Linked DNA regions of Homo sapiens. The protein of the gene in region 6 interacts with the protein of the main gene of each other region in a pairwise test. Each region holds a gene or a part of one and is shown on either strand. Other genes may lie near its edges. The genes, in order: STX17, SFRP2, TBC1D2, ZNF510, MAP2K1, MLH3 and CDK8.

Region 1 (4,600 bases), on a different chromosome or scaffold from region 6:
AAGAAACACCAGCTATAGAAAGCAAAGGGATGCATAGGAGATAAAAAGTCTGGGGAAAAGGATGTGAGGTAGCAAGCGAGTTCTCAGCTCCCCCCAGAGACCAGCTGAAAAGAAGACTGGGTCAGATACCCCCTATCTGGCAGATATATCACCCCTCAAAACTGGAACATGCCCCAGGAAATGTTCTTGGTGGTTTTTTTCTCCTTGCTCATTTTAGCCCAAACTCTAACAATGTTGAAAATATCTCGAAATTTCTTTTTTTCTTTTCTTTTTACCTAGAGGTTATAGGAAGGGATGAACAGAGATGACAGACAAGACAAAAAAGGTTATGAGAGAATTCCTCATTATACATGGGTAGAATTCACCCCAGAAACCAAAGAACTTTTCATAATTACAAGGGAGGGACAGCACAGGGCACAAGATCTTTGAGGTGTTAGAAGACAGGCTGACAGACCAAGCTTGGTGACTGGCTTAATAAGTCTCCTACCACTTGAAATTCTGTGTTATTTATTTAAAGAGAGGCAGAGGAAGAGTTCAGAAGCCAGAAGATTTTTGGAAGAGAAGTTGAGCCTCTTGCATTTTCTTACATCATTAATTTCCTTCACCAGAAGATATAGTTGGACCAAATTGCAATAGGGTTCGCCAATGGACTCCATTATGTAGTCGACCTGTGCTCCTCACTAGGCCCTGATTTCGCTATCTGATAACAAAGGCTTCTGAACTCTTATTCTTTTCCTCACTAACAAACCTCAATAATCTACACTTAGCATTAAGGTCTCCAATTCAGGGTTATGGAAGAAACTAGTCTTCCATAACCCAACGTTTCTACACATCTCAAGTCCTTATCAGAGTTATAGGTTCAGTTTTCACATTTCCAGGGAGAAAATCTGCTCCTTGGCAGTCTTCAAACTTTACCTGACATACATTATATACCCTCAGCCCAGGGCCTCAATCTCTTAACATCTCCATGAACACCCCAGCAAACAACAAAATATATCCATTTATCACACTTCAATCCCACTTGAACATCAGTAGCCACTATCTTGATATACTTGTGTTCCAAAAGGTGACGGAGTGTCCAACAGCAGCAAAGGTCCTCAGGATAGACATGTTGGCACCAATAATACTGAAATTTGGTTTTTAACTGCATTTCTTGTCAGTTTGGCTGGGAAGATCTGGACAGCTGGAAGTGAGCTTCTCCATCATTTTCTGTTTCTTTCTTTGTATCAATTTTCCACCTGTGAAGCCCAACACCCCACCACCAAGTGCAGCTGCAATTCCTGCCACTTTGAAGCCTGCAAGGAGGCCAATAGGACCCCCTACCATTCCCCCGATGAGTGCACCTGCCACAGGCAGAGCTGCCAGCTTGTATTTTGCAGCCTGTAAAAAAAAAAAAAATTCAATTTAGAAACTGAGTTGAGAATATCTGCCTGTGGTGATGTGCGTTTTCCTCTCATTACTCCTGGCAATGCCTCTTTAACTCTTGGTACATAATTAACCTTAGAGACTGTACTTGTAGGGGGGAAAAGAAAGTATTCCACAGGTACTGCAATTGCTCCAGATCTCAGAACTTAGAGAGCTGAGCTACAAAGAGTGGACTGCTACAAATTGATTTTACTTGCAAAACAATCAATTCACTAACTATCTAGCTGGCTTATTTAAACTGTTTCGGCAGCCACAGATTTCCCCCAAAGCTTTTATGTTGCACAGAAATTATTCAGTGCTGTGTGCCTGGGGTTAAAAGCAACATCCTATGGAAAATAGATGGTCCCACTCCATGTGTGCTGTCACATACTTACACTTTTACCCTCTGCAAATATTCCCTGGTAACACCAAATGCCTTACAGCAGAGCTACAGTTTATTCTCTCTTTGAAGAAATTCCTCTCCTGATAGAATGAATCTTAGAGTAGAATATTACAACATTGATTTCTTACACTACCTATGTGTCATTTCTTCCTTATTTCCTTAATTGCTGGTTCCCTCAACATTGAAGAGAGCAGATCAATTGGGTTAATACTAGAGATTCCTGGGAGCCAGAGTACCATTGATTTGTCAGCAGGAGCAGAATCTTACCTTCCCTAAGTTTTTGGTTCCCTCTTCAACATTCACAGCAGCACTGTTGACATGGTCTGCAATGCTGTCAATCTTCTCCTGCTGAGACTAGATGCAAAGGAATTATGAGTGAGCGGTCCTGCTGGGGAGCAGCAGGGAGCCAACACACACTATTTTAATTCCTGTAATCAGGGCCCTGGGTACTGCAGCCTTGCCATCTTAATAGTGGTTCATTAATAGCATCTGATAAGCCATGTCGAAAGGACAAATTAACTTTCATAAAAAAAAGGGGGGGGTCTTAATTATTAGGTAATAAAAGGGTGGCAACTTTACAGCAAAAAGCATCTCACGCTAAAATTCACTCAAACATACAAACATATTATTCTCCAAATGAATCTACTTTCCAGAAAAAAAAAATCCAAATAAGCATTTACATGTCATGTTGGGTTTGATGGAAAAAAAAAACCCAACAAAATCAAACCCCAAAATACCTCCCTAACTTACCTTCTTTGAGGATTCAGTTTAAATCAGGCACATTTACCTTAGGAGTAAAATGCCCTTGGTCCAATAAATACAAATTGTTATGTTTCAGGAACAAGACTACAATACGGTTTGATCTATTATGAGATCTTTCCATTTGTAATATGCAGTAGGGAACAGTGAATGAAATCACTGTTCTGTGCTTTACACCTGTGTATCTTAATACATTTTAAAATCATGACAGTTTAAAATGTTTCAGATCAAATATATTAATAAAGCATTCTACATAAAATGGCAACACCTGTGCTGGCACAACAGCAACTGTGACTCATGGAATCTCTGGGTAGAAGGAATGTTGAGGTCATCAGGTCAATCTCCTCTCTGATGTGCGAAGCCCTACTGTAACATTCCTGACAAGTGGTTACTGAACCTCTGCTCAGATACCTCCAGTGACACGAACTCATTACTTGCTGTAGGAACACATTCCCATTTTTAATTCAACTTTATTTAGATAGAATTTACATATAACAAGTACTGCTTTTAATGGTATAGTATGATGAAATTTAGCAAATGTATAAACCAACTATCACAAATGTATAAACAACAAATGTATAAGCCAACATATAATCAACCATCACAGTTTACAGACTATTTTGGTTTTGTTTTTTTAATGTGCAGAAAAAAGAGAATCTCTCTTTGATCCTAGATAGATGCCACCTGCAATGAGGGTGAAATAATTCAACTTTAATCCTGAAGTGTTTGATTGCCCTTATATAATTGGCCTATTCATTTATATTGAGGCAGACACATACAACACTTTTCTAATTCCAACCATTATTTCATTTGAAAACATGAAGCCCAAACCACACAGCTACTTTTTCCCCATGTTTGTTTCCTCTTAGCATTACTGATATTACTTCCCTTCTCATACACAAAATATGTCTATCTTCGCCATTGTGGTATCCCTTCATTCCAATATTCTCCACCACTATCTTGACATCTCTAAAACAATGCCTAAGAAAGTCCCTTATCAGTTTTCCTTTGAATGTCTCTGTGAGAGACAACTTTAACAATGGTTCTCAGTCTTCCACCTGGAGGCTTCTTAAAACACAGATTGCTGGGCCTAATCCCCGGAGTTTCTGATCCAGTAGGCCTGGGATGAAGCCTGAGCTAGTAAGCTCCCAGGTGATGCTGATGCTGCCAGTCCACAATTCTCACACTTTAAGAACCACTATTATATGTGCTCAGATCAAGGGCACCACCTTTAGTCAGATAATCTGTGTTCAAATCTCAGCAAACGCCACTATGTGCTCTTAGACAAATTACTCAAGCTCTCTAGGTGTTGGTATTCTCATTTATCAAGTAAGAATAGTGATACTTATACCTTCATAGAGTTGAAGTGGGGATAAAATGTGTTTGCAAAGTGTGAGGGGGGAAAAATAGAAAAATTTATCCTAATTTCCCCAAGGAAGTGTTAACTCTCATCTCTCTATCAAAAAATATATTTAACTTTTTCTTTCGGTGCTTGAAAATTCTAGGACACTAAAACTTCAGGTATCTTTTAGCATTCATTCAATCATTCAATTTTTATTTTCCTCAATAGCAAAACTTATTTAAGTCAGCTTTCTTTTTCTGACCCATAGAAGAAAAAGTTCCAGCACTAATAATATACAACTTGTCTAGATTTCTGACACCCTATCATTGTTTCTATTTAGGACACCCCCAACACTTTCCACTCTTGCCTGAAACAGTCTATGCTAGCAGATAAATCACAGGCTTAAAACTCTACCATCAGCCGTCATATGTTGATGAGTTGAAAGGTAGAGGAAAAATAGTCAGTGTCTCCCTTCCTTCAGCCCCAAAATAATTCCAGCAAGAGGGAGGAGCCTGCCAGGATTATTGCCATTTCTATACCCCAAGTGTAATCGTAAAGCCTCAGGGAAATACTTTCTAATGTTCCTTCCTTTAAAAAGGGTTGGATATTGTACTTCTATGACTTTTTAAAAATTAAAGCAAAATTTTAAAATAATTTAAATATTTTTTCATAAAAATCATTTGGAATAACTG
Region 2 (4,097 bases), on a different chromosome or scaffold from region 6:
TCAGAACTACCTTCCTATATATACAACCTATTGTAGGACCAGAAAGTATCATCACCTCTGCCTGCGATCACATCCTGCATCCTCAGTCACATCCTCCAGGACAGGAAAGGTTATGTGGGGGATTCAATTCTCTCTGTTTGGGCCTAGCTGAAAATCCAGGGAGAAAATCCCTAATGTTTTCTCATGATAAACATTTGCAAAATTAGTTATTTTAGAGCTAGACAAAGATGACTAAAAAATCTTCCTCCTGGTTAAAAGTGATGGTTTTTTCTGATGTTTGGAGCTTGAGAATGTTTCATTTGGCCAGGTGAAATCTTATATATGCCCTACCTGTACTACAGACAAGGCTCCCAGGTAAAGTGTAATCAGTCCATTTCTCCCACCATGGTGAGGTCTATCCAACACCCTACTCCCAATGCAGAGGACACAAAAGCATGAAACATTTCCACAAGTATGGCTTATTCCACGACTTGAGTCTCAAAAACTGAGAATTCAGTACCACAGTTCAGATGCATATCATACCAGACAAAACCATGGTTGGCCAAGTCATAGCATTTTTGATTTACCTGCTAGAGATTCTATAATTTCCTGGTTGACTAGAAAGCCATACTCAGTCAAATTCCCATTCTGATATTTAAAAAAAAAAAAAAGAAAATCTCAAAAACAGTTGTACGCAACACAGAAAAATCTTCCTCTATTACTAATTTAAACATAGATTAAACTCCATCAAAGTCAGGAAGTCATACTTACACATCATCTATACAGAATAGCTGTCAGGGGCACACAGGGTCTTAGGACACATTGCAGCTGGGCAAGTTTATGCTGCAACCACTACAAAAACATGGACATTGCCTCAAGACACCACAGTGGTATTACAGGAGGAGGTTTGGCAACTGGAGTTCTAGCAAACAACCTAAACTGGGTGACCTCATGCAAGTCACTAAACTTCTCTGGATTTAAGATTCTTTGTGTATTAACAAGCAATTTTAATGGGATGATCCCTTCTAACCTTAAAATTCTATTCTTTTCCTGCTTTCATGGAGTCTTGAAATTTAATTCCAGCATACACGTTTGTAGGGCTTTCTTTCCCAGAGCATACTGTTCATGACTATAAAACGTGTCCTTTATAGTAAACCACTTACTTTTGGTCTTCGCATTCTAACGAGTCTACATATACATTTTGGAAACAGTACATATATGATCCGTAAACGCCTTGGCCTTGGACTGGCAAATGAGAGCATATAAGGATGAGGTCTTCAGAAAAACACTTTTATGACTAACCACGTTGTGCTGTTAAAAAGAGACTTGCATATTGTTTCTCCTGCTTTACCAAATCAAATGCAGCTGTAAGATCAATTCTCCTTCCCTGTAATCTGATCTTTAGAAAACAATGATTGCGTGACACAGTTTCCTTACAGGTTTGTCCAAAAACCTCTTGCATAATAAATTGAGTTTAAACTTTACGGCCACAGAGGGATCATATTTCACCTAAAAGTCAGGCATTTCTTTTCATGCTTAAGTTTCCAACAGAGGAAGTCATTTGTTGGAGAGAGCACACACCACATGCAACTTTCTTACAAACACAAGGGTGAGTGAGGAAAGGAGAAGAAAAGTTAATTGAGTCCCGCAAAGAGAGAGTTTTGAAAAAATGGCTGATTGGAAACCAAGTGCCTGGCAAATGCTTTGAGGCTTTAGCAGTGGAGCCACCTGCTGCCCCTAGCTCCCAACCCCCGATCTGCAGCCTCTGAGGGTCCCATTAGCTCTAGGAAGCCTCTCTTTCCTCATCCAGGCCAAGTCACACGAGTTGGCAGAATGGGGGGAGGTATACTGTATTCCCTCATTATAACTGGCATGACTCTTTCTGCCCTCCCTCATAGCACTGAAAATAAAAGTGAAGGAGATAACCTACATCAACCGAGATACCAAAATCATCCTGGAGACCAAGAGCAAGACCATTTACAAGCTGAACGGTGTGTCCGAAAGGGACCTGAAGAAATCGGTGCTGTGGCTCAAAGACAGCTTGCAGTGCACCTGTGAGGAGATGAACGACATCAACGCGCCCTATCTGGTCATGGGACAGAAACAGGGTGGGGAGCTGGTGATCACCTCGGTGAAGCGGTGGCAGAAGGGGCAGAGAGAGTTCAAGCGCATCTCCCGCAGCATCCGCAAGCTGCAGTGCTAGTCCCGGCATCCTGATGGCTCCGACAGGCCTGCTCCAGAGCACGGCTGACCATTTCTGCTCCGGGATCTCAGCTCCCGTTCCCCAAGCACACTCCTAGCTGCTCCAGTCTCAGCCTGGGCAGCTTCCCCCTGCCTTTTGCACGTTTGCATCCCCAGCATTTCCTGAGTTATAAGGCCACAGGAGTGGATAGCTGTTTTCACCTAAAGGAAAAGCCCACCCGAATCTTGTAGAAATATTCAAACTAATAAAATCATGAATATTTTTATGAAGTTTAAAAATAGCTCACTTTAAAGCTAGTTTTGAATAGGTGCAACTGTGACTTGGGTCTGGTTGGTTGTTGTTTGTTGTTTTGAGTCAGCTGATTTTCACTTCCCACTGAGGTTGTCATAACATGCAAATTGCTTCAATTTTCTCTGTGGCCCAAACTTGTGGGTCACAAACCCTGTTGAGATAAAGCTGGCTGTTATCTCAACATCTTCATCAGCTCCAGACTGAGACTCAGTGTCTAAGTCTTACAACAATTCATCATTTTATACCTTCAATGGGAACTTAAACTGTTACATGTATCACATTCCAGCTACAATACTTCCATTTATTAGAAGCACATTAACCATTTCTATAGCATGATTTCTTCAAGTAAAAGGCAAAAGATATAAATTTTATAATTGACTTGAGTACTTTAAGCCTTGTTTAAAACATTTCTTACTTAACTTTTGCAAATTAAACCCATTGTAGCTTACCTGTAATATACATAGTAGTTTACCTTTAAAAGTTGTAAAAATATTGCTTTAACCAACACTGTAAATATTTCAGATAAACATTATATTCTTGTATATAAACTTTACATCCTGTTTTACCTATTCTTTGTCTTCTGTCTTGTCTTCTTAGTAAAAGGAACTGGGAATGGAGCTATGTATGGGTGGTCACTTCCTTCCATGAGCCCAGCCCTCCAGCAGTTTAAAGTGATCTACTTCTCAAGTGACTCAGAAAGTGTCTCCCCCTCCACCACCATGCCCCACATCTCACAGATTTCACCACTTTCACCCTGTGGAAGCAGCGACTTGCAGCCTCTAGAAAGGGGTTGCCTTCTTTTGACCCTTCTGAGCAGTCCAGCTGCAGCTATGTGGAAACATTACCCTAAACTTAAGGTTTATGAGCTTTACAGTTGTGCTTTTCATTTCCTGAGATTTTTCATACCGAAAAAGAATCACCACTGCAAAAATGTTAATTCCTTCCCCGACTCAAATCTAACCCTCAGATAGAGAGAGCCATGATTTGGAGAGTATCCACTGGAATGCAAGGAGGAGGAAGGGGATGGTGAAAACTTGAACTAGGGTAAAAAAGGAGAGACAGACATCTGTCCATTAAATGTCTCTTAGTCCTTTCCAACTGCTATAACAAAATACCATATACTGGGTAGTTTATAAACAACAGAAATTTACTTCTGACAGTTCCAGAGGCTGCAAAGTCCAAGATCAAGGTGGCGGCAGATTTTGGTGTCTAATGAGGGCTTTCTGCTTCACAGATGGTGCCTTCTTGCTGTGTCCTCACGTGGCAGAAAGGGTGAACAAACTCCCTCTAGCCTATTTTAAAAGGGCACTAATCCTATTCATGGGGCTCAACCTTTGGTCATGTTTTGAGGAGTTAGCAGCTCTGGCATCACCCAAATGTCTGCCTCTTGTCATATATAGTCATGTTTCACTTAAAAACAGGGGAGTGTTCTGAGAAACACATTGTGAAACCATTTTGTCATTCAGTGAACATCGTAGAGTGTACACACACAGTCCTAGATGGTATAGCCTACTACACATCTAGGCTATAGAGTAGAGTCTATTGCTCCTAGGCTACAGACCTGTACAGCATGTTACTGTACTTAATACTGTAGTCAACTGTAACACAATGGTAAGTACTTGTG
Region 3 (4,600 bases), on a different chromosome or scaffold from region 6:
CTGGCGGCCCAGGAAGGGCTGGTCTATGTGAGCTGGCGGCTCCTCCCCAGCTGCCTTGCTGCCAGGTCCTGCCAACCATGTACAAGTCCTACACAGCACTACCTCCTCTGATCTTCACATGCATTAGTGTGCGGCTGCAGCTGAGATGGTTCACGCTCAGAGGAGGCAGCCCCCTGCCATGGCCCTATAGTACATTTGCGGCACAGGCTGCCTCCAGAGCCCCATGCTTTCCATTTATCTAGGCTGCCTCCCAAATGTGGCTGCCTCCCAGATGTGCCTGTCAGAGAGGGGACGAGGGGAGACAAGCAGGCCATCTCCTCTGCACCAAGGCCTTGCTGAGCACAGTGGACATGGGCAGTTAAATATAACAGAAAGGAGGGTGGCTATGCTCGAAGGCCCCTGGAGGCTGAGTAGTCCAGTGGCAGGAGCTCGAGCTTTGGAGCCAGCCCTGGCCCTCTCACCGTGTGACAATTCCCTTTACCTTTCTGAGCCTCGTACTCAGCCTCCATAAGATATGTGCAAAGAGCTGGGCACAGTGGCTCATGCCTGTAATTCCAGCACTTTGGGAGGCTGAGATGGGCAGATTGCTTGAGGCCAGGAGTTTGAGCCCAGCCTGGGCAATATATTGGAATCCTGTCTCTACAAAAAAAAAAAAAAAAGAAGAGTGGTGGTGCACGCCTGTAGTCCCAGCTACTCGGAAGGCTGAGGTGGGAGGATCACTTGAGCCCAGAAGGTAGAAGCTGCAATGAGCTGAGATTGCAGCACTGCAGTCCAGCCTGGGCAACAGAGTGAGGCCCTGAAAAGAAAAGAAAAGAAAGGAAGGGGGGAAGGGAGGGAAAGAAAGAAAGAAAAAGAAAGGAAGGAAGGAAGGAAGGAAGGAAGGAAGGAAGGAAAGGAAGGAAGGAAAGGAAAGAAGGAAGGAAGGAAGGAAAAAAAAAAGATTTAGGCAAACACACCTGCTTTGCAGGATCATTAGGATTAAATGAGATAGTGCAGGCAGGGCACAGAGTGGAGGTGAGTCAACATTGAATAAATCAAAGGCCTTCTGGAACGGGTCCCCAGCTGTCCCACCTGTCTGTCATTGGTGCTGTCTGTTCCCCGTCCACCCCTGCGCTTACTGGCTGTGGTAAGTGGGGTTCTGTATGCACAGTGCAGGACTCCTTGGGCCTAAGGCTGCATGGAGTAATAAGAGGGTCCTTTATATTTGCATAGAATTAGTAAATATCTCTTGGGCATTTACTGTGTACCAGGCACTATCTAGGCCCCCAGCATCTTACAACAGAGGATCTCGTTGGGTCTTTAGGAGGCAGAGCAGGGATTCCCATATGCATTATACAGATTCGCAATCTGAGGTTGGGAGAACTGAAGTGACCTGCCCAGAGCTGTGTGGTTAACCCTCAGTGAAGGCAGGGCAGGAACCTGGCCTGGGGTCCTCCCTGTCACCACCACCCCTTATCTAGGGAAGGGCTCTGCAAGGTGTTGCTAACGTGCACTTTTGCTGGCAGTAAGTATGATGAGTACGGCTTCCTGACGGTGCCCGACTATGAGGTGGAAGACCTGAAGCTGCTGGCCAAGATCCAGGCATTGGAGTCACGATCCCACCACCTGCTGGGCCTCGAGGCTGTGGATCGGCCGCTGAGGGAGCGCTGGGCTGCCCTGGGCGATCTTGTGCCCTCAGCCGAGCTCAAGCAGCTACTGCGGGCAGGAGTACCCCGTGAACACCGGCCTCGTGTCTGGAGGTGGCTGGTCCACCTCCGTGTCCAGCACCTGCACACTCCAGGCTGCTACCAGGAACTGCTGAGCCGGGGCCAGGCCCGCGAGCACCCTGCTGCCCGCCAGATTGAGCTGGACCTGAACCGGACCTTCCCCAACAACAAACACTTCACCTGCCCCACCTCCAGCTTCCCCGACAAGCTCCGCCGGGTGCTGCTGGCCTTCTCCTGGCAGAACCCCACCATCGGCTACTGCCAGGGCCTGAACAGGTAAGCCACCAAAGCCCAGTGAAGGTGTGATCTTTACCTTTTGGAGCGCAGGTCCCCAACCCTCAGACTGTGGACAGGCAGCCATCTGTGGCCTGTTAAGGGGCCGCACAGCAGGAGGTGAGCAGTGGGCGAGAGAGCATTACCACCTGAGCTCTGCCTCCTGTCAGATCAGCGGCAGCATTAGATTCTCACAGGAGCGTGAACCCTATTGTGAACTCTGCATGCGAGGGATCTAGGTTATGTGTTCCTTATGAGAATCTAATGCCTGATGATCTGAGGTGGAGCAGTTTCAAAGCCACCCCTCCCCTACCCCAGTCCATGGAAAAATTGTCTTTCATGAAACCGGTCCCTAGTGCCAAAAAGGTTGGGGACCGTTGTTTTAGAGCACTGCTGTCTCTCTTTGGAGCCTCCCAAGAACCTGAAGACATGAGCCTAGGTTCCCCACCCACAGGCTGGTGAGAGGACATGTTCAAGACAGAGATGGGCCAGAGCTCAGAGCTCCAGGCCCCTCGTCCCTGCTCTCTCCTTTGATTTGTGCTTGGGGACGTACAACTTACATGGCCTCTCAAACTTTGGCCTGCTGGAATCTACAGGGTAAGGCCCCACTCACATATGGCAGGACTCTCTGGATCAGGAATCATTCGCTTTCAGTGAAACCCATGCAGAAGACCCGGGGAAAAGAGACTTTCTAAATGTTACAAGGGGAGTTCACAGAAGCCAGGAAAAGAAAACACAGCTGAGGACCAGATGGTCATTGGAAGCCAAGGCAGCTGCTGTCTGCAGCAGGGCTGCACCCCTGCACAACCCCAGGGGGCAGCCTTCATGCCACAGTCCTGGGATGCCATGACCTGAGCTCGTATAGCACCAAGGTACTGCTCTGCTGCCCTCTGCAGCTGCATGGCCTCTGGCCTCTCTTCATTCTGCGTGTCTGCTTCCTTCTCTCTCAGCAGACCAGCCTCTGTCCATTCATTCATTGGACATTTAGGGACCATCGAAGCTGTTAGAATGGAGACCTCAGCCCCTGAGTCTTGAGCCTTTCAGTGAGTCTTCCCACCCCACCCCTCATGTTCCAGTTCTAAATTCCCCAAAGAAAAAATCTGATTGGCCCAGCCAGGAATAATTTCCACTTCTGGTCCAATTGGTAGGGGACGCAGGGAGGGACTGGGGTTAGGGGATGAGGTCACCTGGTTCACAGGGCTATCTCCCCTCCAAGACTGTGAGGGACTGTCATCCCCCCGCTCCAGCCCCAGCTATTTCAGTAGAAGCTGCATAGTTGCAAATATTTTCCCAAAGCAAGTTTTCACTCGATTTAATTTAAACACACATATACCTAAGCAAAATTTACATAAGCCATGCTGCTTTTTTTTAGAATAGGTGGTGTGTGACATTTATTTAACACAGAATCAACATTCAGTGTCCTTACTCAAATTTGAGTGGTTCCCAAAGGTAGATATTTTTCATACTCTATTTCCAGCCTAAAATTGGGTGAAATTGAGCATGTGTATGTACAATTCCTGGGAATTAAGAGTTAAACTCCAACAGTAATGCCTCTCAGTCGAAGCCTCCTTGGAAAATATGTTCAGATTTCATGCCACACTAAACGTCTGCCACAGGTCAGGTCTGTAGAAATTTCATTCATTCAACAGTCTGACAAAAGCCCCTGTACTTCTCATTTGTTTGAACATGTTAAAATCCAGAAGAAACAAAACCTGCAAAGCCTCTTCTAAGAATAGCTGTGAAGGGAGCTGGAAGCTATGAGATCAGAATGAATAATAATTTTTGCATTTCACACAAAAGCCAGGTAGGAAGTAAAGCATAATGGGGGCCTCTTGGATGCCAGGTGTTTAACACCTGATGGCATCTAATCCTCACAAAAACCTTCACTGGTGCCACCATGCCCAGATGAGACATGAGAGGGTCTGAGAGGCTGAGGAACCTGCCCGTTGTCTCACCACAAATGCTGACCCAGCCAACTGCTCACCCTGGCCCCCCGCCCCCAGCCCCCAAACCCAGTCCTTTCTACAACCTGCTCTCTCTCCAAATAGCAGTAGTCAGAGGCTGTGCTGAGGCCTCCCAGAAACCTTTCCCCTATGTGGATGTAACCTTCTCGAGACCTGCTTTTGGAGTTCAACCTGTGCTGAAGGGGCAGAGAAAAATCCTATGGCAGGAGGGGCACTTGAGATAAGCCTCATAGGAGGAGAGAAGCTTCTCCCTGTGTGGAAGGAGGCAGCACACAGGCCACAGAGAGGCGCAGAAGGGACAACTGAGGCCAAGAGAGGCGGAAGGTCCCCAGACGGGTTTTCTAAAATATCTTTCTCTGAATAGCATTTTTACTTAAATTTGATATGCAAATGCAGATAATTGGTATTCATGTAAATATTTACTGCTTAAAACAGAAAGTTACTTGTAATAGGCCAGGCACAGTGGCTCACGCCTGTAATCCCAGCACTTTGGGAGGCTGAGGCAGGCAGATCACGAGGTCAAAAGATCGAGACCATCCTGGCCAACATGGTGAAACCTTGTCTCTACTAAAAATACAACAATTAGCTGCCTCAGGAGGCTGAGGCAGGAGAATCACTTGAACCAGGGAGGCAGAGGTTGCAGTGAGCCGAGATCGC
Region 4 (4,600 bases), on a different chromosome or scaffold from region 6:
AACAGCAATCTTAAACTCATTCAGAGAACACAAAATGAATAACTGTTTCCAAACTCATTTTTTGAGAATATAATGTTGACGCCAAAACGTGACATGACATGACAGAAAAACTGCAAGCCAGTATCTTTCCATTAATGTAGACACAAAAATATTAATTGAAATATTAACAAATTGAATCCAGAAATAACTTAAAGTGATAGCACTACCTTATGTGGGAATTATCCCAGGAATGCAAGGTTGGTTAAACATTGATAAATCTATCAATATAATTCAGCTCTTTAACAGACTAAAGGAATAAAATAATATGATTATCTCACTAGAAGCAAGAATAGCCATCTGACAAAATACTCATGCATGATTAAAAAAAAAAAAACTCAGGAAACTAAAAATAAAAAAGGGAACTTCCTTATTCTAATTAAGGACATATACAAAAAACATGTAGTTAAAATAAGACTCAATGGTGAAATACTGAGTACCCCTCAGGTGAGGTATAAGACAAGGATTTCTATTATCACCATTTGTACTAAACATTTTACTGGAAGTCCTAGCAGTAAGGCTAAAAAGAAATTAAAGATATAAAAACTGTAAAGGAAGAAGTAAAATTGTCTTTATTGCAAAAAAAATTTTGCACATTTAAAATCCAAAAGAATCCACAGATAAGCTATTAGAATGAGTGAATTTTGTAAAATGCCTAGGTATAAGATCAATACTAAAAAAATCCATCGTATTTTAATAAACTAACAATAAACTGGAAAATGACATTTAAAATGCAGTATCATTTGTGCTATTATCAAAATAGATCAAATACCTAGGAATAAATATAATAAAAGATGTGAAAGACTTCACCTCTACTCTGAAAAACTTTCCATCAGGATTTTCTGTGAAAATTGATAAAACTTCCATGAACATGAAAAGGACCTAAAATAGTAAATAAATTCACAAAATTTGTGACTTACTATAAAGCAACAGTAATTATGACAGTGAAGTACTAGCAAAAAGATAAACTAATTGGACCAAAGGAAGAAAATATACAGTCTACATTAGACCCGCATACAAGTCACTTGACTGACAAAAAACAGCTGCAATTCAGTTGACAGAAGATGGTCTTTCTAACAAATGGTGCTAGAGCAACTGGATATCCGTATGGAAATATGAACCTTGACACTCACCTTATACCAAACACAAAAGCTAACTCTATGTAGATCAAGCTAAAATAAACAAGTATGTAGTAACAATATAGGAGAATATCTGATCTTAAGAGTAGGGAAAGAGCTTTCAAATATGATACACAAGGAACTGCCATTAAAGAAAAGACGATCTGACCTTTATTAAATGTAAAAACTTTGTTGTCAAATATATTATTTAAAAAATGAATAAGCAAGCCATGGAATCCAAGAACATCAGTAATGCACACATGGCAAAAAACATTTACTGAAAATATTGAAATAATTCCTACTTAAAAAAAGCAAATAACCCAATTAAAACAGAGTTGAATAGGTACTTTATATATTACATAAAAAGAAATGATGTCTAAATGTCCAAAACACAAACAATGGTGCCCAACATTAGTATTTACCATAGAAAAGCAAATTATAAATTTTGATAAGATACCACACTATACAGCCACCAAAATGGCTAAAAACAAAAAGATTGATAATAACAAGTGTTGCTCAGAATCTGGTACAGCCAGAATGCTAGTGGGAATGTAAACTGATTTGACCACTTAGGCAAGCTACTTGCAGTATGTATTAAAACTGAACATATGTTTATTCTATGAACCAGCAATTCCATTTCTAAGTATATCCCAAAAGCAATGAGGACATACCCAAAGACACAAAAGAATATTCACAGCAGCCTTATTCCTGATAGCCTCAAACAGGAAAAACAAATGAAAAAATGCACTAAGAGGAGAATGAGGAAATAAATTATGGTCTATTCATACAATGAAATACAGCCCAGTGATAAAAGGGAAATATTAAGATACAGAGCAAAACATTCCCTTGAAAACTGTAAAAGAATACACTTTGTATGATTCTACTGGTATCATATTCAAAAATGAATTTATCTTTTTTCCCTAACATATGAGGTCAGAATTGTGGTTGCCCTGTAGAGGGGAGCAGTGGTGTTATCTTAATCTGGGTACTAAATTACATGAATTTACATATGTAAAAATCCATCCAGTTACACACTTCAGAGTACACTTTACTGGTATTAAAACTGCATCTCAGTTAAAGAACTAAGTTTTTAAAAGGAAAAAAGAGTGCATACAAGAGAAACAAAAATTTAGCAAAATATATATAGTTGGTAATTTGGGAAGGTGGGAACATATTTATTATATTATTTCTTTGTATCTTTCTATATTTGAACAATTTCTCAATTCCTTACAGGAAAAGAAAATTTGGACATAGACTCATACAGAGGAAAGATGATGTGAGGACAGACATCTAAGCCACGGAGCAAGGCCCTTCCCTCACAGCTCTCAGAAGGAACCAAACCTGTTGACATCTGTTTTTTTTTTTTTGAGATGGAGTCTAGCTCTGTCGCCCAGGCTGGAGTGCAGTAGCACGATCTCAGCTCACTGCAGCCTCCGCCTCCCAGGTTCAAGCAATTCTCCTGCCTCAGCCTCCCGAGTAGCTGGGATTACAGGCACCCGCCACCACGCCCGGCTAATTTTTATATTTTTAGTAGAGACAGGGTTTCACCACGTTGGCCAGGCTGGTCTCGAACTCCTGACTTCAAGTGATCTGCTCTCCTTGGCCTCCCAAAGTGCTGGGATCACAGGCGTGAGCCACTGCACCCGGCCCCTGTTGACATCTTGATCTCAGACTTCACCCGGCCCCCGATGACATCTTGATCTCAGACTTCTGGTCTCCAGAATGGTGGGAAAATAAATTGCTGTTTAATCTACCCAGTCTGTGGTTCTTTATTATAGCAGCCCTAGCAAACTAATACTAAGGCTCTAACCTTTATCTCCCTCCCCTCTCTTATTATTCCCTAAGAGGAAGTCCAAACTGCAATAGGCAAAGATTCTTAATGGACCTTGCATGCCTTGTTTAGCCTGCTCTCAAAATGCAGTAATCTCCTGTACTGCAACAATGAAAACCTTACCCATTTTTCAGGACAAAATCCTTTTAAACTCTCCACCTCTGATCAACAGAGCCTACACCATCGATCTCTCCTTTCTTTGACAGTCTGTCTACCTGAACGTCTGTTTCCATTACCTGAAAAACTGTATTAATAATAAAACTGAAAAACTGTATTAATAAAAGCCTGAGTTTGGCACTAAGCCGTCTACTTCCACTGAGGAAAAAGCAGAAGCAACATACTGCATTTATTTCAAGGCTGTTATGAGAAAGATTTGCACTGACACATGAAGACCAACAAAGACATTTTCCCTGACTTTGATAACTTTAGATTCCATGAGGAATCAGCCTGGTTTTAAGCTTCTCATCAATGCAAATCTGTAAAAAAAATACTGTCTGTCTGGCTCTCTGCCATGGCTATCAGAAAGAATGAAAACTGCAGTTCCATTTTGGAAAATCTGTAACATCAGGCGACCTCCATCTTTCCACATGCCAATTCTGCTGTGCTACTGCCCTGCTTTTCTATATATTCCTTGAATGATTTTGATCCATTTCTACATTTCCATATTAATATGTGGACCCTTAAACACCTATGAAATCCATGATGAAAAAGGTATTAGTAATTAACTCACCTGAGATATGTTCATTTTCTGCTGCTCCTGAAAGAGTGTGGAGAACCGTAAAGGATAACCTGGGGGTGAGGAAGGAGTCATGAGAGATCTGGGCAGCCTCCATCTTACCTGCCTACCAATGTCATCACACCAGCTGGGGAAAAAGGCCTCTCTACAAAAAATGTTCCTTTGACCTTTGAGAAGGGACAAGCAGCACTACAGAGAAAGCACCTCCTGAATATGTGCATCTTTAATATGATCATGTGGATGAACCCTTGCTGTGTGTGTGTGTTTTTTTGTTTTTTTTTTTTGAGACAGGATCTGGCTCTGTTGCCCAGGCTGGAGTGCAGCGGTGTGATCTCAGTTCACTGCAACTTCTGCCTCCTGGGTTCATGCAATTCTCCCGTCTCAGCCTCCTGAGTTGCTGGGACCAAAGGCACCCACCACTACACCCAGCTAATTTTTGTATTTTTTGTAGAAATGGGGTTTCACCATGTAGCTTAGGCTGGTCTCGAACTCCTGACCTCAAGCAATCTGCCCGCCTTGGCCTCCCAAAATGCTGGGATTGCAGGGGTGAGCCACCAGGCCTGGCCCCTTGCTGTTTTTCATCAGGCGATTGTAGACTATTTTCCTATTGATTTATTTAAAATGTATGTCTTCTTTGACTAACAACTTAAACAGAATTAACATTAATATTCTGTTAATATTATTTACACCAATAGAAAACACAAAACTGAAAAAAAGGAGATGCTGAAAGACTATTTTAAAATATTTTTGTTCTAACTTATAGTTTCTCAAAAGACTTTCGATAAGACACTTCTGGTGACTCACCTGTGACAGAGTGAACAGCACTGTGCTTTGCTCCAAGCTCTGTCCTGAGTGACCATGGACAAACTGTTCATCCTA
Region 5 (3,500 bases), on a different chromosome or scaffold from region 6:
GGAGTTCAAGACCAGCCTGGCCAACATGGTGAAACCCTGCCTCTACTAAAAATACAAAAATTAGCTGGGAGTGGTGGTGTGCGCCTATAATCATAGCTACTTGGGAGGCTGAGGCAGGAGAATCGCTTGAACCCAGGAGGCAGAGGTTGCAGTGAGCCGAGATCACGCCATTGCACTCCAGCTTGGGCAACAAGAGCAAAACTCTGTCTCAAAAAAAGAAAAAAGAACTATTATAACTAAGTAGGGAGTGATGTAACTGAGCATGGCATGGAGTTGCTCAGAAAAGACTACACACATTGGAGATAAGCTTTATGTAAGATCTTGAAAGATCGGTACCATCCGGGGCAGATACGGTGTCTCACGCCTGTAATCCCAGCACCTTGTGGGGCTGAGGCAGGCATATCACCTGAGGTCAGGAGTTCGAGACCAGCCTGACCAACATGGTGAAATCCTGTCTCTACTAAAAATAAAAAAATTAGCCGGCCATGGTGGTGTGTGCCTGTTATCATAGCTACTTGGGAGGCCGAGGCAGGAAAATGTGGGAGGCGGAGGTGGCCGTGAGCCAAGATCATGCCACTGCACTCCAGCCTGGATGAGAAGAGTGAAACTCCATCTCAAAAAAACAAAAGGGCCGGGCACGGTGACTCACACCTGTAATCCCAGCACTTTGGGAGGCCGAGGAGGGCGGATCACGACATCGAGGCCATCATTTTTAAATTTTGTACTAAAAATACAAAAATTAGCCAGATGTGGTGGCGCATACCTGTAGCCCAGCTACTTGGGAGGCTGAGGCAGGAGAATCGCTTGAACCCGGGAGGCATAGGTTGCACTGAGGCGAGATCGCGCCACTGCACTCCAGTCTGGGGACAGAGTGAGACTCATCTCCAAAAACAAAACAAAACAAAAAAGATGGGTACCATTTATTTTATTCTAGGCCCCACAGCAGACGGTGGAGAAATACCAGTACACAAGACAATCACAGTCCCTGTTTTCACAGAAGTTAAAGTGTAGTGGCAAGTATAAAACAAAAATAAAAACATGCAAGAGGGCCAGGCGCCTGTAATCCCAGCAGTTTGGGAGGCTGAGGCAGTGGATCACCTGAGGTCAGGGGTTCGAGACCAGGCTGGGCAACATGGTGAGACGCCGTCTCTACTAAAAATAACAAGAATTAGCCCGGCGTGGTGGTGTGCGCCTGTAATCCCAGCTACTCGGGAGGCTGAGGCACGATACTCACTTGAGCCCAGTGGGCAGAGGTTGCAGTGAGCCAAGATCATGTGACTGCACACTCTAGCCTGGGTGACAGAGTGAGACTCCGTCTCAAAAAAAAAAAAAAAAAAATCATGCAAGAAAGTGGAGGAGGGCATTTCAGACAAAAAAAAAAACCATGTCAGCAAGACCAGACAGATGTAAGAAGGTAAGCAACAGTATGCTGGTGGCACAGTGAGGAGAGTAAAGAAAGTGGTAAGTGGACCACAGCAGGTGAACGGAAAAACAGAGGAAAATTAAGCTAGATAGGCAAGGCAGGGCCAACAGCTACAGGAGTACCCACTTAAATGTAGTTTTGCTTTGACAATTCCAGTTACCCACAGTGAGTACAGTAACCACATTCATGTAACTGTCATTACAATATATTGTTATAATTCTTTTTTATTGGTTATTATTGTTAATCTCTTACTATGCCTAATTTATAAATTAAACTTCATCATAGGCATATACTGCATAGGAAAAAACACAGTATATGCAGGGTTTGGTACTATTGATATCTGTGGTTTCAGGCATCCACTAGGGGTCTTGGAACATATGCCACTCAGATAAGGGAGGACTACTGTACTCTACCACAGTATCTTCTTCCTTTCTTTGAAAGGTGCATAAATAAGTGAAACTGGAATTCTGTGAGTGTTTATATTCAAACAAGAGTCCCATATATTTCCTTGCCATGGGCTAAATCATCTTTAAGACTTTCTTTGCTATTACTGTATCTGCTGTAACAGCGGCAGAGATGTTCTTCCCAAAGACACAGGCTTAAGCAGGCCTTTTTCACATGAAGCTGTTCTGAAAGACAGCACCAGTATTAGTTACTGCATCAACTACCCAAAAGAAGCATCCAAGTTCAAAACTACAAAATCAGTGTGAAACCACTTCAAAAGCTCCTACTTATCAGGCCAGACATGGTGGCTCATGCCTGTAAACCCAGCACTTTTGGGAGGCCAAGGAGGGAGGATTGCATGAGGCAAGGAGTTTGAGCCCAGCCTGGGCAATACAGCAAGACCCTATCTCTAAATTTTAAAATTAGCCAGGCATGGTGGTACATGCCGGTAGTACTAGCTACTTAGGAGGCTGAAGCAGGAGGATTCCCTGAACCCAGGAGTTCAAGGTTATAGTGAGCACCAATGCACTCCAGCCTGAGTGTCTGAGCAAGACCCTGTCTCTCAAAAAAAAAAAAAAAAAAAAAGTTCCTGGTTATCATCATGGTACACATCTCAGAAAGAGCCATAAGAGACAAAAAAAAGCACATCAACCTGTCTCAACCTTTCTTCCTCCAGGGCCTTCACACTCTAACAGATGTGTGTTCCTTACAAACCTGGCAGAACTGCTGATGCTATGAACTACACCCTGAATGCAATAAGTAAGTCTGAGTGTTTCAGGGTTACATAGAAACAATTCAAAATCCAAAATCATGAACGCTACTAAGGCCAAGCAGTGAACCCTCCTAAGGTTATTCGGCACCTTATAGCCTTCAAAGAAATTTTATACATCTTCAAAGGTATTCCTCTGAGGTAGGATCTAGTCAATCATTTAATCAACAGGTATCTACTGAGTATTTTCTATGTGCCAGAATCTGTTCTACACACTGAGCAATGAACAAGGCAAAGCCCCAACCATCATGAAGCTTACACTTGGGGTGGCAGAAGAAGATAAATACTTATACACGATGTAACATCAGTTAGTGATCAGCGCTACAAAGAAAAATAAGGCAAAATCAAAGGGTAGAAAATGACAGGGAGTTCTGTATTACAGTGATCAAAGATGGCCTCTGTGAAGAGACATTTCAACAGAGGGGTGAAGGAAGTGAGGAAGCAAGTCATACGGTATTTGAGAGACAAGCTTTCCAGGCAGCAGGAATGGCAAATGCAAAGATTCTAAGATAAGAATGTGCCCAACCTACAACCCAACAGCACAAAGGACAGTGTGGCTAGAGTGCATGAGTGAAGAGAACACTGGAAGAAAACTAAGGACCTGGTCAGGTAGGGCCTTGTAGGCCACCATGGTAAAGATTTTGTAAACAATTATCACCTCCACTTTACAGATTAAGGAAACCAAGAGTCAGAAAGTAGAAAGGACTTGCCCAAGGTCAAAGAAAAAGTGAGATCTTGAGAGGTACCCTGCCTCACTACTGCAACTGGATTAACGGTATTGTTTTAAAGAAAGAGATTAATAGCCGGTGCGGTGGTTCACACCTGTAATCCCAGCACTTTGGGAGGCCAAGGAGGGCAGATCAC
Region 6 (3,898 bases):
CTCTTTCCACAAAACATAGTGGTACTTTTCCCACAAGGACCAGAGAATCACTAGTGTCTGGAAATACAAATTCAAGGCCCAGATCTTCCAGATTTTTGTGGTAACACCTAAAGAGATAACCTCAAATGTTAAAAAAAAAAAGAGTGCTACTTCATTTGCACTTCACTACTGGTTCCAAATACTACTTAATAGTTTTTCAAAAGCTGCCACAGGGCTTAACAACCGTATTGTTTTTCTCACACTTATGTGTGGGTGTTTGGGATTTTTTATTATCAAATTTCCTTTTTGAATTACAGTAACCTTTATTGTTTTTCTCTTTTCCATTGGGAATCAATCTGTGTCTAAGTCTTGTTTCTAAGTGTGTTTTCTTCATTGAGGAACTGCTAACTTCTGGCTGCTGGCACTTAAGGGAGTCTGGCATGAAGAAAAGGTCTGAGAGTGATTTGAATCAGCATTAAAGCAGGGAGGTAATTAACAGCCCAAGGAATTGAGAAGTCCTGACTAACGGGATGTAAGTAAATAGATCTGCCTCTAATATAAATTATGTCATAGGGAAAAAAAGATTTACTGGCAGTATCATATTCCCAAACCTGAAACATATTGGGAGAAATTTCTTTTTCATTTTCAATAATTTGTGCTGCCTAGAAGAGGAAAAATATCCTATCTTGTGACTCACTATATGATTCGCCCCTTCCTTACATCCCAATGTTTTACTTTCTTCCCATTATGATTACGATAATGAAAACTAAGAGTCTAGAATGCACCAAAGCAAAGCAGAATGGGACCAATTACTGCAGAAACTTTGCTTTCACAAAGCATGGCATAAACACAGACTGTTCCAAGAAATGAGAAGAGTGTTCTAAGCCAACTGCTGGAAAAAATTATCAGGGAAACTCTATCCTATACTCTTCAGCTGGGATACAGTGGAAAGAATAGGCTGGGTCCAGTGGCTCACGCCTGTAATCCCAGCACTTTGGGAGGCCAAAGTGGGAGGATCGCTTGAGCCTAGGAGTTCAGACCAGCCTGGGTAACATGGCGAAAACCCATCTCTACCAAAAAATTACAAAAATTAGTCCAGCATGGTGGTGCTCACCTGTAGTTCCAGGTACTTGGGAGGCTGAAGTGGGAGGACTGCTTGAGCCTGGAAGGTGGAGGTTGCAGTGAGCAGAGATTGTGCCACTGCACTCCAGCCTGGACAACAGAGTGAGACCATGTCTCACAAAATAAATATTTTAATGGATGATTGGATGCAGAAAAAAATATATTTTAAAAAAGGAAACAAACAGCCTGTGGAGTCAGACGACCTGCCTTTGAGTGCCTGCTCCACTACTTAATAACTGCTATGACCTTAGACAAGTCTTGTAACCTCTCTTGGTCTCATCTGAGAAATGGAACAATAGTTATGCTTATTCCTCACAGAATTATTGTGAGAATTGATACCATCAACATCACATTCTCATGGTGGTACTGACCATAAGAGTCTCCTTTGTTCCTCTGTCACTGTTATCTCTAGCGGAGGAATTAGAGTAGAAGACAGTAATTTTTTCCGACCAGAGCCTTGTGCCTGTTGCTTCTCGTAGGAATCTATTGGCAGAAAGATGAATGGGTTAAGAGTAGGAAGGGAAGTCTTCTAGATTCAGATAAAAATAAAGCACGGCCTTGAGATAATCATTCTAATGCAAAGCAGAATGTTTAATGTTCAGTTTTAGATTTTGGATTTCCATTTTTAAAGTCAAACTAATAAATATTCAGCCTATTAACAATTTTGGTAGTATTTTTCAAAATAAGAAATATAAGACTTGCATCTTACATTCAGATGAACAAGCCAATGTTCCTGTAGTTAATAAATGTTGTTTTGATGACAGAGGTGAATAATGTGGATTACCAGGAACATATGTGGGTTGACCACACAGTCTTATGGCTCCAGAAGGCTTCCCTTTCCTTGAGCAGGGTCTCCCAGTCTCTGGAGAGAATTAGTACTATTCTCAAATGGTGCAGGGCCTGTAGAGGTAAGTTTTTCTAACACTGTTTTTACTATATCTTTCCCAACTCTTAGGCCGTCATTTTATAAGGAAAAGTGAAAACAGTAGTAATATCATTGCCATTCTAGTCCATGAAGCACTCCTTAGGTCCTTGCCTAACTCTTTGACATTACTCATTGGCCACAGGAGTAAAGACTTTCCTGGTATTTTACCACTTGGTGAACACACTGCCTCATGATGAGGAAAAGGGTAGCAAAAAAAAACATTTAAAAAGCATATATTGCTTTGGAAAGATAGATTTAAAAACCAGAGATATTGGTTGTCTCTGGGGAGAGAAACTAGGAGGGGTGGGGACAAGGATAGAAAGGAGACTTTATTATATTCCCTTTTGTGCCTTTCAGAATTGGATCTATTTGATTATACTGCATATTCAAAAGCAAACTAAATTTTAAAATCAAAACAGCATACTGGGCCTTCTGAGCTGCCACTGGTCTCTGCCTGATGGAGTGTGGGAAGGCATGCCAAGATCACCGGGCATATGGAGGGGCAGAGCTTTGTGCTGGATGTCAGAGTAAGCAGCCTATCCTTGCGTACTTCTGGGTTGTTAATAACATCTGGCAAATATGCCTCTGACCACATAAATAAGTTCACATCTTTCAATTAGTGAACTACCACATTCTTTCAATTATAACACAGGCCAAACTGCAGGACTTTAGTTTAATTTTTGAACATACAGTACAAAGTGTGCTTTCTCACAACAGTTGCAGTTAGAAAAGCTCTTTGAGGTGTACTGATTCTGCTGGGAGTCTCAAATTTTTTCTGGCTGCAAACAGATCCTTACCAATGATAAGCTGCTCCAGACGTATACGCTCATGGGCAGCGTGCTGATCCACCAGCACGAGCAGGTTCCCACCTAGATGAGCAAGGATTGTGAACTTTGATTCTCAGAGCAAGACGACAACCATCATGTGTGTTGAGGACAGAGAAGACTTAATTCAAACTATCTAACAACAGCATAAGACAAAACATTCTGAGGAGTAACAATTGTATCTTTTATTTCCTAAAACATGAAATTATGGGGAAAATGATAGCAAACTTATCCCATATGTTTGAATCCCAGATCCAATTCTGAAAGGCACAAAAGGGAATTTAATAAAGTCTCCTTTATACTCTTGCCCCCACCCCTTCTAGTTTCTCTCTCCAGAGATTACCAGTATTACTAATTTTTATCCTATAAGTTTTATTATTTTCCCCATAATTTCATTTTTTAGGAAACAAAAGGTAAACTAAGAAACTCTTTAGTTCACCAGCATCTCATTTAGAAAACATAGTCAGGGCTGGGTGCAGTGTCTCACACCTGTAATCCCAGCACACTGGGAGGCTGAGGCGGGCGGATCATGAGGTCAAGAAATCGAGATCATCCTGGCCAACATGGTGAAACCCTGTCTCTACTAAAAATACAAAAATTAGCTGGGTGTGGTGGCACGCGCCTGTAGTTCCAGCTACTTGGGAGGCTGAGGCAGGAGAATCGCTTGAACCCAGGAGGTGTAGGTTGCAGTGAGCCGAGATTGCACCACTGCACTCCAGCCTGGTGACAGAGTGAGACTCCATCTTAAAAAAAAAAAAAAAAGTCAAAGTGGCATTTCCTCAAGTTTGAAGCTTGAATATATAATTCTTATGTTTAAATACTGATTTTGCCTTATTAATTCAACTTTAATATGATAAAGGATCGTTAAACAACACATTGTTATAATCAGCTAACCTTGGTGTACAAGCTACTTGGAAACCCACAAAGAATGTACTTCCAGTGCACTTTAGATCACAAGCCGGAGAACGTTTTCTGAAGGGCCAGATCATAAATATTTTAGGCTTTTTGGGCCACACGATTTCTGTCATGCCTACTCAACAATTCTTTT
Region 7 (4,600 bases), on a different chromosome or scaffold from region 6:
TATTATCTCTATTAGTCTTGAGTTTATAGTGACCTGAGAAATATTCCTAATAAGAAACACTTTCTACTAAGTACTTGACTAGCCAAAATTTAGGTGTTTTAAACAAATTCTCATTATTCTGGACCTCTGAGCAGTTTTTGGTGATTACCGTTCTGTAATATAACTAGGGATTGAGATACAGTTGGAGAGATCTAATACCAGGGATAGGATACATGTAAACCATCTCTCTGTTGCAAAACAGCAGGCTAACTCACCATAGGGTACTATGACTCTCACCCACATTGTGACTGTTCTAAGAGAAGACTTAAATGCTATTATTCAATATAATGTGATTCTGTATAGTGCCCTAAATAGAAATAAGGTTCAAAATTTATATTTGAATGCCAAATAGTGGCAGTATTATATGTGCTGCCAGAAAAAAATTCCTACTACTGAATTCATTTATAGTTTCTACTGGTAAGAGCTAAAGGTACCTTTTTAATACAGATATTGAACATATTTTATCATTTCAAATACCAAATAACAAAACAAAAAAGTAAAACAAGATGAAACAAAAATACAGTCCTGAAATTCAGGAAACCCATAAATATTTCCATGCCAATATGTAAACTCTACAAATTTTGCTGTTTCTACGGATCTTTGATAAATGCAAGTCAAAAAACAAAGACTCAAGTAAAAGTAGCTTCCATCAGCTAAAAATATATACCTCTCCAACGAAGACATCTAAGTTCAAACAACAGTGATTTAAAAACAAAAACAAAAACGAATAATGTGTACCTGCAGGAAATCCCATTACATTGAATATTCTGTCCAGCTGGTCATGGTGATAAGGATTACTAGTTTTGATGTCCTCTTGTCGACAGTGAAATATTGGTTCTGACGTTAGTAGTTCTGCAAATATACACCCTATAGCCCAAATATCTTTAAAACAAAAAGAAAAAAAAAAAGAAAGAAAAATAGGCAAGGAAAAAAGAAAAAGAAAGGTGCAAAATAAAGTGGTTCTTTCCAAAAGAAAATGCAATTTTATTTTCTTGGGGAGTGTTTTTTTCTTTCTTTCCCTAATAACTCATATTAATTCCTAAGCAATTATAATTACTAAATACCATGAAACATTATTATAAGTATATATTCCCATGCCCTCCACCCCGATTTTTCATTCTGTATACCTCCATACCACCCAAATGGTTTCACTCTAAGCCCAATTAAATGTACTGGCTGGATTTTGGTGAGTTTTCAATGTCCAGGTGATACCTTTTCTGTGAACTACAGTAAAGCTGCATATGGAGCATGGGAACTACAACCAAAGAAAACTAAACAAAAACAAACGGAAAACCCAAACAGTATTTGAAATTGGGCACTCGCCTAACATAATCAGTGTAAATTTTTGTGATAAAATATTTTTTATTTTATTTACTTGCTAATTTGCAAGGTCTAATAATTACCCTCTCATGTTAGCACTAATCAGTAAGGTGGTATTCCACCAAGAGACAATGTCCGACCTCAAAACGCCTAAGAATTAACAGCATTTCTACTTTAACAAAGTTTTTTTTCCAAAGTGGTTCTTGATGCCATAAGCAGTATCAGATTTTGCAAATTTAAGTATTTAATGCAAAGGACAGGAAGCAAAAGCAAAATATTACTGTTAACATGGATTATAAATTCGGCCGGGTGTGGTGGCTCATGCCTATAATCCCAGCATGTTGGGAGGCTGAGGAGGACGGATCACGAGGTCAGGAAATCAAGACCAGCCTGGCCAACATAGTTAAATCCTGTCTCTACTAAAAATACAAAAATTAGCTGGGCATGGCGGCACGCGGCTATAGTCCCAGCTACTCAGGAGGCTGAGGCAGGAGAATTGCTTGAACCCGGGAGGCAGAGGCTGCAGTGAGCCGAGATCGCGCCACTGCACTCTTGCCTGGGCGACAGAGCAAGACTCCGTCTCAAAAAAAAAAAAAAAAAAAAAGGGTTATAAATTCAAATGAATTATTGACAAAAGCCAGGCAAATGGGTTTCTCTGTACACAACAAAGTAAATTCCTTTCATTCACAAGATACAGATTTACTTTCATTCAAATTAAATTTGTACTCAAAAGAACTATTAGTAGAGGTAAGATCTATTTGCCAATTTAGAATTTAAAGCTGAAAATATTTCATTTCTACTCTTAACAAATCCTAAACTAAGTACAATGGTGTGCATATAGCAGACCCTCAACACATGGTTTTTGACTGACTTAACCAATACCTGTGACAAATATAAATAACCAAAGGGAACAAATCAAAATTACTATTTTATCAAAGCTGATTGTTCAGATATGTTAATAACTGTCACTTAAACAGGAAATAAGAAAAAACCTAAAATGAGAATTCCTAAATTCCAAAACTGGAATAGAGATATTTAATTTAATCTAAAATTTCACATATTTACATTTCAAAGTAACAAGTTAATCACCTATTTACTTAAAGATTCACACTGACTGCAGCAAGTGATTTTAAAAAATGACATCGTATTTACATATCAGAGAACCAAGCCTAGCCAATACCATCATATGGAAAAGTCTCATCAAGAAACATAGGCCAACCTATTTTGTTTTTGTCATCGAAAGGTATATGGGAAAATTAATTATTTTGTGATTATTCTTTTTATATGGGTATACCCTATAAATCTAACCTTTGATAATCAATGGCCACATAGGCAGCTAAGTAGGATCACAAAAAGGGATGATGGATGGCTTTGCATGTTTAAAATTCTACTTACAGCACACCCAATAAACACTGTAACAATTCATCTGGTTAGTTATTAAAAATTCCAAAGAAGAAAATAAAATATGTAAAGGAAGATGAAAGGTAAGTAGTTTAGCTATAATTAAAGCTACACTGCTCTTAGCTGAGCATACTGGCATATGCCTGTAGTCCCAGCTACTCAGGAGGCTGAGGCGGGAGGATCGCTTGAGCCCAGGAGTTTGAATCCAGCCTTGACAACATAGCAAGACCCTATTTCACAGAAAAAATGTATGCAAAGCTACACTGCTTTTTAAAGAAAAAGTCCAGTCAACAGGAAAAATAACTTATTGAACCTTGCTTAACTCCCTCCCATCTAGTAACTCTTCTGTCTTTATAACTGCTATTCTCTCTCACCTTTGTCAATTTTACCATTCTTCCTTTCTTCAAAATCCTGACCCATACATTAATCATTAACTCTGAGTCAGCTGATCAGGCTATTATTGCAGATAAATTTCTAATTATTGTAAATAAGTTTCTTTTTCCTACCTTGTTTTTTTTTTTTTTTTAGATTGTGCCCAATTCATGGAAAGTCTCTTTAGTGTTCACCTGCCTGCCAAACTCCTTATAAAATGGCTTTCCAAATTAAAAACATATAAGTTTCATCTACTTCTCAAAATGTGTGATGCTTATAGGTAGCTACTGAGCTAACCAGGCAAAGGAAATAGTAGGAATTGGCATGCTATACAGACCAAATTTGGGAGGAGAAAAGACTTTGCTCAATAATATTTGAATCAACAAGTGTAGTAATAGCAAGCTTCTTGTTTTGATAAAAGGGAAGAAATTCTCATTTTCTCTATTTTAATGTGTATTTCCCACTTAGCAGAATGCCTCACATTTAGTGGCCATGCAGCTATTTGAGGACAAACACCTGAGCTTAAAAGTCCATACTTCAGTAAGACTTTTAGGACTACTTTAGTGGCACTGAATTAGAGATTGATATCCCTTTTTTTAGCCTTTTCCCCAAAGTAAATCAGACAAACAAAAATAAAAAACAAAACACTCAAAAGTGAATTAAACTTAGTTCCTGGGATTACAATGTTTACTAACCTATTATTTCCTCTCTTTGGTTTAGTGACTCAGCTTGCAGTTCTGCACAACGGAATAAACCAGCACAGCACTACAATCTGTTTGTAGTAGATGGGGCATATGTGAGTTTGATGCGTTCTGATCAGATTTTTTTCCCTATGCTTTTGCTCCTTCTTAGTAGCTTCGTAACAGATGTAACCCCTTCATTAAATGGAATGTATTCAGCAAATTATCTGTATGTTCAACTAGAAAGGCTCTTCTATCACCTGCTCACAATTCAGCTATCAAACAAGGAAGTCAAAATGCTGGGGAAGTTCTTGGTAAGCAGCTTTAATGGTGGTGTGAGAAATTTGTTGAGTATTTTAATCTTTAGGCTACCTCTGCAGGAGACAGGAGGAATGGGATTGTGTGGTAGAGGCTGGTATTAAAGAAAAGGTTCCATTTTGTAATTCCTTCTTATTTTTATTTTATTTTTACTTTTTATGAGTCAGAGCCTAGCTCTGCCACCCAGGCTGAAGTGCAGTAGCGTGATCTCTGCTCACTGCAACCTCCGCCTCTCAGGTTCAAGCAATTCTCCTGCCTCAGCTTCCTGAGCAGCTGGGATTACAGGTGCCCGCCACCATGCCTGGCTAATTTTTGTATTTTTAGTAGAGACGGAGTTTCACCATGTTGGTGAGGGTGGTCTCGAACCCCTGACCTCAAGTGATCTGCCCACCTTGGCCTCCCAAAGTGCTGGGATTACAGGTGTGAGCCACCGTGCCTGACCTTATTTTTAGAAACTTAAATTGAAAGTG

The links.
Region 1: the proteins of MLH3 (region 6) and STX17 interact in a two-hybrid assay, tested with the Homo sapiens proteins (one large-scale study listed by BioGRID and IntAct).
Region 2: the proteins of MLH3 (region 6) and SFRP2 interact in a two-hybrid assay, tested with the Homo sapiens proteins (one large-scale study listed by BioGRID and IntAct).
Region 3: the proteins of MLH3 (region 6) and TBC1D2 interact in a two-hybrid assay, tested with the Homo sapiens proteins (one large-scale study listed by BioGRID and IntAct).
Region 4: the proteins of MLH3 (region 6) and ZNF510 interact in a two-hybrid assay, tested with the Homo sapiens proteins (one large-scale study listed by BioGRID and IntAct).
Region 5: the proteins of MLH3 (region 6) and MAP2K1 interact in a two-hybrid assay, tested with the Homo sapiens proteins (one large-scale study listed by BioGRID and IntAct).
Region 7: the proteins of MLH3 (region 6) and CDK8 interact in a two-hybrid assay, tested with the Homo sapiens proteins (one large-scale study listed by BioGRID and IntAct).

What each region holds. Positions count from the first base shown.
Region 1 is NC_000009.12:99,965,214-99,969,813, reverse strand, and holds part of STX17 (syntaxin-17), read right to left. Parts: intron 2,162-4,600; coding exon 2,075-2,161; intron 1,381-2,074; coding exon 1,141-1,380; 3' UTR 1-1,140. UniProt on the Homo sapiens protein: SNAREs, soluble N-ethylmaleimide-sensitive factor-attachment protein receptors, are essential proteins for fusion of cellular membranes.
Region 2 is NC_000004.12:153,779,536-153,783,632, reverse strand, and holds the end of SFRP2 (secreted frizzled-related protein 2 precursor), read left to right. Parts: intron 1-1,877; coding exon 1,878-2,182; 3' UTR 2,183-3,042; downstream 3,043-4,097. UniProt on the Homo sapiens protein: Soluble frizzled-related proteins (sFRPS) function as modulators of Wnt signaling through direct interaction with Wnts. They have a role in regulating cell growth and differentiation in specific cell types.
Region 3 is NC_000009.12:98,206,050-98,210,649, reverse strand, and holds part of TBC1D2 (TBC1 domain family member 2A), read left to right. Parts: intron 1-1,505; coding exon 1,506-1,982; intron 1,983-4,600. UniProt on the Homo sapiens protein: Acts as a GTPase-activating protein for RAB7A. Signal effector acting as a linker between RAC1 and RAB7A, leading to RAB7A inactivation and subsequent inhibition of cadherin degradation and reduced cell-cell adhesion.
Region 4 is NC_000009.12:96,771,073-96,775,672, forward strand, and holds part of ZNF510 (zinc finger protein 510), read right to left. Parts: intron 3,775-4,600; coding exon 3,716-3,774; intron 1-3,715. UniProt on the Homo sapiens protein: May be involved in transcriptional regulation.
Region 5 is NC_000015.10:66,393,412-66,396,911, reverse strand, and holds part of MAP2K1 (dual specificity mitogen-activated protein kinase kinase 1), read right to left. Parts: intron 1-3,500. UniProt on the Homo sapiens protein: Dual specificity protein kinase which acts as an essential component of the MAP kinase signal transduction pathway.
Region 6 is NC_000014.9:75,030,596-75,034,493, forward strand, and holds part of MLH3 (DNA mismatch repair protein Mlh3), read right to left. Parts: intron 2,896-3,898; coding exon 2,824-2,895; intron 1,585-2,823; coding exon 1,473-1,584; intron 121-1,472; coding exon of another isoform or gene 108-120; coding exon 1-107. UniProt on the Homo sapiens protein: Probably involved in the repair of mismatches in DNA.
Region 7 is NC_000013.11:26,389,688-26,394,287, reverse strand, and holds part of CDK8 (cyclin-dependent kinase 8), read right to left. Parts: intron 922-4,600; coding exon 778-921; intron 1-777.